Linked DNA regions of Homo sapiens: region 2 is linked to region 1. The links come from fine-mapping of genetic effects on gene expression. A gene starts in region 1. The other region holds a variant in brackets. All regions are shown on one strand. Distances are between the middles of the regions.

What was found. PIP is the estimated chance that this variant, and not a neighbour inherited with it, causes the effect. A credible set is the group of variants that fine-mapping cannot tell apart.
Region 2: its variant is the best candidate, but not a certain one, in a credible set for the expression of STK3 in whole blood (TOPMed, PIP 0.62).

The regions. Positions count from the first base shown.
Region 1 is chr8:98,823,019-98,827,412 of GRCh38, reverse strand. It overlaps STK3 (serine/threonine kinase 3), which reads left to right and starts at 1,725. Exons shown (of 11, transcript NM_006281.4): 1 at 1,725-1,898. The coding sequence starts at 1,873. RefSeq lists silencers at 1,239-1,578, 1,649-2,158.
Region 2 is chr8:98,676,599-98,680,992 of GRCh38, reverse strand. All of the region lies in intron 6 of STK3 (serine/threonine kinase 3), which reads left to right. Among named protein-coding and RNA genes, the nearest start is that of STK3, 150 kb to the left of the region's middle. The variant G/T (reference allele first, on the strand shown) is at 2,034.

The DNA of each region.
Region 1 (4,394 bases):
TCATATTTATTGTTCTAACCTCCAAGAAAATTCTATGTAACTCTACATCTTGACAATTTCTTTCTTTCTTTTTCTTTTTTGAGACAAGGTCTGCTCTGTCACCCAGGCTGGAGTGCAGTGGCGCGATCTCGGATCACTGCAACCTCTGCCTCCCGGGTTCAAGTGATTCTCTTGCCTCAGCCTCCCAAGCAGCTGGGAGTACAGGCGCATCACCAGGCCCGGCTAACTTTTGTATTTTTAGTAGAGACGAGGTTTCACCATGTTGGCCAGGCTGGTCTTGAACTCCTGAGCTCAAGTGATCCGCCCGCCTTGGCCTCCCAAAGTATTGGGATTACAGGCGTGAGCCACCGCGCCCGGCCCATCTTGACAATTTCTGACAAAAACAAGTAAACTCATGTAGCAGCTGTATATTGTTATGTGAAAGGTATATATGGAATTTAAGGTTAAAAGCAACCTCTGCCTCCCGGGTTCAAGTGATTCTCTTGCCTCAGCCTCCCAAGCAGCTGGGAGTACAGGCGCATCACCAGGCCCGGCTAACTTTTGTATTTTTAGTAGAGACGAGGTTTCACCATGTTGGCCAGGCTGGTCTTGAACTCCTGAGCTCAAGTGATCCGCCCGCCTTGGCCTCCCAAAGTATTGGGATTACAGGCGTGAGCCACCGCGCCCGGCCCATCTTGACAATTTCTGACAAAAACAAGTAAACTCATGTAGCAGCTGTATATTGTTATGTGAAAGGTATATATGGAATTTAAGGTTAAAAGTATACCCACAATATGGATGCATGCAGTGGTCAGATTACAATGGGATGAGGGCTGCTGGAATCAGGTTGGGGGAGAGGACCAAAGAGGGGAGGAAACAAACTTTTCTTGAGTATTCTTCCTGGCAGCATAATTTGTGACAGGCTTGCCAGGTTACCCAATGGGACAGCTGCAAGGGCCCAGTGCAACTGAATTTGGTGTACCGAGAGATCTCACTGTACGAATTATTTTCTCGGTAATTAGATGTAATTATTGTGAAATGTAGCGAGGAGCTTGTCCACAATAAAAATCAAACAAGAATTTCCAGAAGTATCCCTAGTACTGTGGCCTACACATGTCAAATGGCTGGGGGAAAACATAACCGATAATTATAAACAGAACTAGAGAGGGAAGCGTGGGCAGTGAGAAAGTAATACTTCAAACGGATTCACACGATGTTAGGATGTGTCGTTGGGAAAGCCAAAGAAATGAGTCAAATTGGATCAGGGCAAACCGTAGTGAGGGCAGGCTAGGGGCGGAGCTCTGGGCCAGCTCAGAGGGACTTGCCCTTCCCCAGCCTAGAGCGGCTCCGGCCTCGCCCCCTAGCTCTAGCGGAACCTTCTCCTTTTCCCGGTCACGGGGCTCTGGGGCCAGCCAGGCCTTCGTCCCCGGCCCCGCCCACCCGCCGCGGCACCGGCCCCGCCCGCCAACCCAGGCCGCGGCAGGCTCCGCCCCCCGCCGCGGTGCCCGGCTCCGTCCACCTTCTCTGGGCCGCCGCCGCAGGCTGGCGGCCGGCGCGGCCGGGGGCGGGGCGGGGCGGCCGGGGGCGGGGCGGGGCGGCCGGGGGCGGGGCGGGGCGGCCGGGGGCGGGGCGGGGCGGCCGGGGGCGGGGCGGGGCGGCCGGGGGCGGGGCGGGGCGGCCGGGGGCGGGGCGGGGCGGCCGGGGGCGGGGCGGGGCGGGAGGAGCCGCGCTCCTAAGCGGGAGGGAGATCCGCCGCGGAGTTACGGGAAAGTTGGTCCGAGTTCCCAGAGTTTCCCTCTGTGGTGCCCTAGGCTCGGCCGGCCGGTGCCCCGGCTCCTTTCCTCCTTTCGGCCTTCGCCGTCCACCAGGTCCCTCTCTCTGTCCCCGGCCGCCATGGAGCAGCCGCCGGCGCCTAAGAGGTAACGAATCGGGGAGCGGGAAGAAGGAGGGAAGCGGCGCCGGCGGCCGCGGGGCGGGGGTGGCTAGGCCAGGCCCTGCTGCGAGCCTCTCCCCGCCCGCCGGGCCCCGAGCCGGGCGCGCTGAGGTCGGGAGGCGGGTCCGAGTGTCCCGCCGCGTCTGTCCACGGGCGAGGGGACCTGAGGGGAGCGGGAGCCGGAGCCTCCCCTGCGGCCGGCAGGCCTGGCGCGTGGAAAGTCGGGTGGGCAGCGCCGGGCTCCCTGCGGCCTGACCTCCCGGGGCGGGAGGAATTAAATATTAATAGCTACACAGTCTGTAAAACATTGTGGATGTGCTGCTCTGACAGGTGTTCTTCCCCCTTCCCCCTCAAGTTCAAAAGTATTTATGGATGCAAGACAGTGGGAAGTTTAAATTAGAACCCCCTCCCCCAATATAGTTTTGCGTGTAAAAATAGTGCTGCTTTGGTATGGTATTTACTGTTATTAATAGTTTATATTTAATCTTTGACACCTGTGTTGGAAATGTATGCATACAAGAGTGGGATGTGTTTGAGCTAATATTTGCAATGATCTTAGGAAGCCAAATCTAGGTTGTCCATTGACAGAAGTTCATAATATGTATTCCTCTCTCCCCAAGAATGAATTAACGAATTGTTTGATGTTGCTAAAATATTTAACCTCAGTCTTTCATTTTTAACTTATAAAATAAGGATAGTAATCTCTCAGATAGTGCTGTTGTGAAGATTAAAGAGTTCGTATGCTTTGACAGCTAGAGATCTTTAGATGAAAGGTGTGTTCAAGAACATGGGATAATTGAAAAGTTAGGAACTTTGGGAGCTATTGTGAATTGTGTGACTAGACATGTGAGCCTTGAAGCCTGGAAGCCATCTGTTCAGGTGAAAAAAAGGGGGGGTCGTGAAGGAGTTTCCAAAAGGGACCTGCTGTCAGAGCACTTGAGCAAGTCAATTGATAGATTCTTTTCTAGCATTTTGTAAGTTACCTGCATTCTACTCATTGGGCACCGTTTTAATACAATATAAGAGAATTGGGCACTTTTTTCTTTTCTGGAAGAACTGGAAGGAGCACCTCTGAGAAAACACAGTAGTCCAGTTTGAACAACTCTGAATTGAAGTGCAGCTCTCTATTGATTAGCTGTACTGTAAGTTATCAGAGTTTCATTATAGGTGTAAGAGAATCCTTGCCCTTGTGGAGACATTAGAGAACCTGGAGGAGTCAGGGGCAGGTGTAGGCAGCAATTCTGTGGTGATTTATACTTTTCAAAGTGGTGGTTGCACTTTTAACAGACTTATTTTTAGCTTATTCAGAGTCTTATTTTGAAGTAGTGAACAAAAATGCCGCAAAAGCATTTTTGAAGGCGAAAGATATGTGACAGCAATCCCTGATATTTGAATGTCTCAACATTTTTTATAGAATTTTCATATTCATAATATTTAATCCTCACAGCAACCCTATGGAGTAGATTGGATTATAGGCATTAATCCTAATTTATAGATGAGGATGTTGAGAGAGTTTGCCACATGGAAGGCTATGACAGGAATTACTGGCAGTTTTGCCCCTATTGATTATTATCTCCTAATAATGAAATATAGCTACTCGTTTTGAGGTCATCCTGTTTGCCAGGAAATTTAAGTATACATTATTTAAATCCTAAGAAATAGTAATCCTGGCTCTGCTACTTATTATGCTAGTTCTAAGTTTAATTTCTTCATCTGTGAAATGTATTGTGGGGATTAAATGAGGTGATATGTAAAGCACTTGGGACAGAGCGAGACCCTGTCTCAAAAAAACAAAAACAAAACAAAAACAACAAAAGATAATGGGGACTAATTTAATAAATATTTATGTATCACGACTGAGCTTAAGAAATAAAATTTGACAAATATATTTGAAGCCCCTATGTGTTCAACAGTGTTAGTTGTTAACTTATGTTTTCCTTATTATATGAGGCTCAAAGACGTTAAATAACTTGGTCAAGTGGAGAAAGTGCCAGAATTCTGCATCTGATTGGCTACAAAGGCTGTGCACCCTCTTGTTGTATACAGTGATGGCTCTTTTTGAAACTCTCTTTCTTATCATTCCATGATGTAGTGGTCCTCTTTTTCTGTAATCTCCTGGTCTCTGTTGCTTATTCTGCTCTTAATCCTTATAAAAGTGCCATTTTGCTTTTCTGCCTTGAATAACACTTCCTTAGTGCTGACTTTTACATGGCCTTATCGATGTCGTTGATGTTCAAGTATGACTAGAAGCTGCTGCTCAGTTGGCATTTTTTATTTTTTCAGGTAGGTCTTACTCTTTCATTATCCCATCTAGTTTGTCACTATAGCCTATCAAATTTTCTATTAAAAAGTTGGTGGATTAATTTTTTCTGTTTTCTTTCTCAAGAGTACTACCCCATAAAACCCATTCCATGGTTTTATGACCCTCACTTTTGAATTGCAGCAGTACCTTCTAGCTGGACGCTTTAGTCCAGTGGTTTTC
Region 2 (4,394 bases), 150 kb after region 1:
AAAAAAAAAAAGAAAGGTGGGGTTAGAAACTATAGAAGGAAAATTTGGTAGACTAATTAAAACTGATGTAAAACATAATGGATTCCCACCACATCTTTTGTTCAGTTTCTTTTTATACTCTATTATGTATTTCAAAACTTGAAAGGTCATATTTATAATTTTTTATTTGGAAGTTATTCCATCTTATTCCTCTGTTATTTTATTTAGTTCTCTGGATCTTAAATCGTTTGTAGTTTTGGATAAAATGTTGCCTTCTTTAATTCCAAAGTAGTTTATACTTTTAGAAACTGTCTACAGAGAAAAAATTGTGCTTTACTTTCAGCCTTTATCGTTGCTACATTCTACTTTCTAGTATAGATCCCAACTTTGTCTTCTGTAGGGAAAGAGAACAGTTTATAGTTAGTTCTTTCTCCTTTTTTTCTTATTGCTTCTGACTTCTTAGCCAACTTACCTGGCAGCTGTAGTAAGTTATGCTGCTGCGGTGTGGTAGAGACTGGCATTGGGTGTGTTCTTATAGCCATCATAGCATCGGCTTTTGTTATTTTCCATGTTTCAGTTTGTTGGTAATGGACATATGGACATCATATGTTCCACAGAGTAGTGTATGAAGCCAATTTGAACTGTTTCCATTTGCCTCAAGTTCAATCATGATATTTATTTTTCCATGGCACTTACCCAGATTATCCATACCTCCTGCTTAGCTCTGTCACTGCCACCATGGACTGTATTTCTTCTGATTGCCTCCATTTTTTCACAGTATCTAATTGCCTTTCCCTCTTAGCTCTGTCTGCACAGCATTGATTGATGTTTATAAAAGATCCAAAGATCTTTCAGATAACAGATACTCAGGTGCATAGTAGTATGATATTCAGCTAGTTTTTTGTTTGCATAAGGAAAGTTATATATCCAGTTTCACAGACTGGTATTGAATATTCTAATGGAAAAGTTAGAAGAGTAACAATATGATTTTAGACAGTTTTGCTTACTTTTTAGTACCAACAATAACAGCAATATGATCTCAGGGTACCTTACCTTTGTTATACCAAATCAAGTCATAATTTTATTCATAAATTTTGAAGCTAAGATCCTAGATGCTCCCTTTTAGGCTTGAGAAAATATGTCTACATTATTGTTTACTATAGCTGTTCTTCAGCTCTCTTGCCCTATGCAAAGTCACTTAGAAAGTCATTGATTCTCAGAATATGAATAAATGTGTTGCTATCATTTCATGACATTCATTGAGCCAACTATTACTGTAACTGAGAAGCTGTGGGTTTAAGCTTGTGGATTCACTGGAATGCATTTATCCATTTATTCAGTAGATATATATTGAGTACCTACCATGTGCTTGGGACTATTCTAGGTACTAGGGATGCAGCAGCAGGAAAAACAAAGGTAAAAATTTCTCTTTATTGAGTTTATATTCTACTGAGGGAGGGAGATAATATCAAAAATAAATAAATACATCATGTGTCTTAGATAGTCATAAGTGCTAGAGTAGAAAAAATAAAACAGGGAAACAAGATAGGAAATTTCAAGGGTAGGGTGGAGTGGTTGATGTGTTGTGTTGGATTGCCAGTGAAGGCCTCATTGAGAAGATGATACTGGAATAAAAAGCTGAAGAAAATGAGGGTATCTGGATGTAGAATATCTAGGCAGAGCCAACTTACTGCAAGTTCTGTGGTGCTGAAGTGGGAGTGTGCATGGTGATTCCTGGTCCAGATCATAGAGCCTAGAAGGTCACAATCAGTGCTTAGACTTTTATTCTGAATGAGATGAGAAGTCACAGAATTTCTAAGTAGAGGAGTGACATTAGAGCCAGAAAGGTGGTAAGGGTGGAATTACATAGACTAGTTAGGAGACTTTTGCATAAACCGAGAGATGACGGTGACTTCTCTTGAAGAAGCAGTGAAAATAGTGAGTAGTTGAATTCTGTTATATTTTGTAAGTGGATTAACAGGATTTGCTGATGGATTAGGTATATGAGAGCACTGACAATGCTAAAGAGTTACTCTGCACAGCTTTGAAAGATG[G/T]TCCTTTCCTAGTCTATCAAAATATAAGCAGGAAGGCAGAAATGGAATGAAATATAGAGTTTATTCTTCCACAAAACTCAACTGTAAATGTGATGCATGTTTGCTATAGAAAGGAATAAAGGTATAAAGGAAGAAAACAAAGTATAAGGAAGAAAATAAAAATACTTGTACTACCTCAAGATTTACCATTAACATTTTGATATATGGGCTTCTGTGTACTTTGTGTATCTACTGTGCCCATTAGTACATACTGGTTTTTAACCAAAATTGGAATCATGAGATTACATTGTTTTATAACTTTCTTTTTTTCCTCTATCACTACATCTTGATCACTTTCCCATATCCTTAAGTTTTTGAGCCTTAAAATACTTTAAAAATTGCTAAAGTGAAATAATTTCATATACATTCTGTTTTTATGATAAAACTTTAAAATGTATGGTTTCTTTGTTTAAGGCGAAAGGAAGCAACTTATGCAAAGAAGCCATTACTAGTCATTAATCCTAAAGTTTAAAAAAGTCCATGGTTTTAATTTTTCATACTCATAAATTATTTATTAAATATCATAAATTATACTTTTTAAGAATTTAAGTATTCTGATGATAAGTTTTAATTTAAGGTGTAGCATATCAATTCTCTATGGATTTCATTTTTCTGTTTCTTTTCTACAAATTTTATTTCCACATAGAATGTTAAGAACTCTCTATTGGAGGAAATTATTATTTTTTTTAACCTTAAGAAACTGATATTTAATTGCATTTGTACATCCTATCTTTAACTTTGTATCAGTAAGCAGTCTTAACCAGCTGAGTGATTACATCAAGCCTAAATAATTAACCATATCAGAAAACATGCAATTAATAATGAACAGATTGTTAGATACTTCCTTCTATCAGTACAATCATTTTGAAAAGAAAACATTCTAAATGTTTTTTTCATTTAAAATGTATTGTACCTGCCAAAAAATACAAATGTGGTTTTCTTAACCTTGGACACTGATATATACATGTGCAGTAGGGAAGCATACTTCTGTTGCCAGCTTCTTAGTTACTGGGGTAGGCAGAATTGTTCTCCAACTACCTGACTCCTTCTGCAACCTCTTGTGCTGATGGTATTCATATAAAATGTAAAAAACATTTTCAAATGTTTTGCGAAGTTTTGAGAAGAAAAGTTCTGAAAAATTCCTAGGAGAGGGAAGAAAAAGGGTGAAGGCAGAATGACAAGTACCCATATTTGGAGATTTGGTGGAAGGAGATAAAAGAGACCAGAGAGTAAGAGAAGAATTAGGAGAGTTTCAGCCAAGGGAGAAAATAGTTTTAAGGAGGTTGTGATTGATGACCTTTTACAAATGTTTGTCCTCTTCTCTGTCTCCATCTCCATCTCCGTCTCCTTCTCCTTCCTTCTTCCTTCTTCCTTCCTCTTCCTCCTTTGTCTTTCTTCTTCTTTCTTCTTTTTTGCCTTTAGTTTGGGTAGTATGAATAATAGGTTATCAGATTGGAGGTCATGGTTAACTTTCAGGAGTGTAATTCAGTCAAGTAGCAGGCTGAAGTCAATTCCTGGGGGATCCAGAAATGAAGTTCGGTAGCCAAGAAGAGGAGTAAGTTGGGTGGCGGTGGGGGCGGGGGGTGGGGGTGCGGTGAGATTTGAAGGTTTGAGAGTCCAGGGAAGATTTTAATGGCATGAGGAGACTTAGTCTGATTTTAGAATGAGATGTAGGACCCAGAGGAGAGGATTAAAGATGTAAGGAGTAGGGCCAAGGGCGACAGATAATGAAACAAGGCCCCAGTCAGGTAGCAGGGAATGTGACTGAGGATTTAAGTCTAGTCATCAACCATGGGGAAAGTAGATTTAAGCATACTATGTCTATAACCTGCTCCTGCCCTGGACATCAAGTGTTACATTTGAAGAGCTCACTGCTTATTAATGCAGAAGCAGTATCAAGCATTTTATATGGTTGCCAGACTTAGGCAGGGCCAGTGGGTTGAAAGGCAGTAATACTTTGCTAGGCAATAATTGGTTTAGGGGTGCTGGTTAGCTGTAGTGGTGGTTCAGTTGCTTACAAAGTATTTAGAAGCCTCTGAGCAACTATATTCTGATCTGCCTTAAAAATAATTTAGAGTGAAGCTAATTACTGAAAGACCTTAACCAGCTTTTAAAAATATTGTGGAAATAAGCATAAATTCACCATTTTAACATTTTTAAGTGTACAATTCAGAGATGTTATATACACATTTACACTGTTGTACAGCCGTCACTACCATCCATACACAGAACTTATTTTTTTTTACTTTTTTATTGTGGCAAAATACACTTAACAAAATTTACCGTTTAACTTTTTTTTTTTTTTTAAAGATAGAGTTTCAC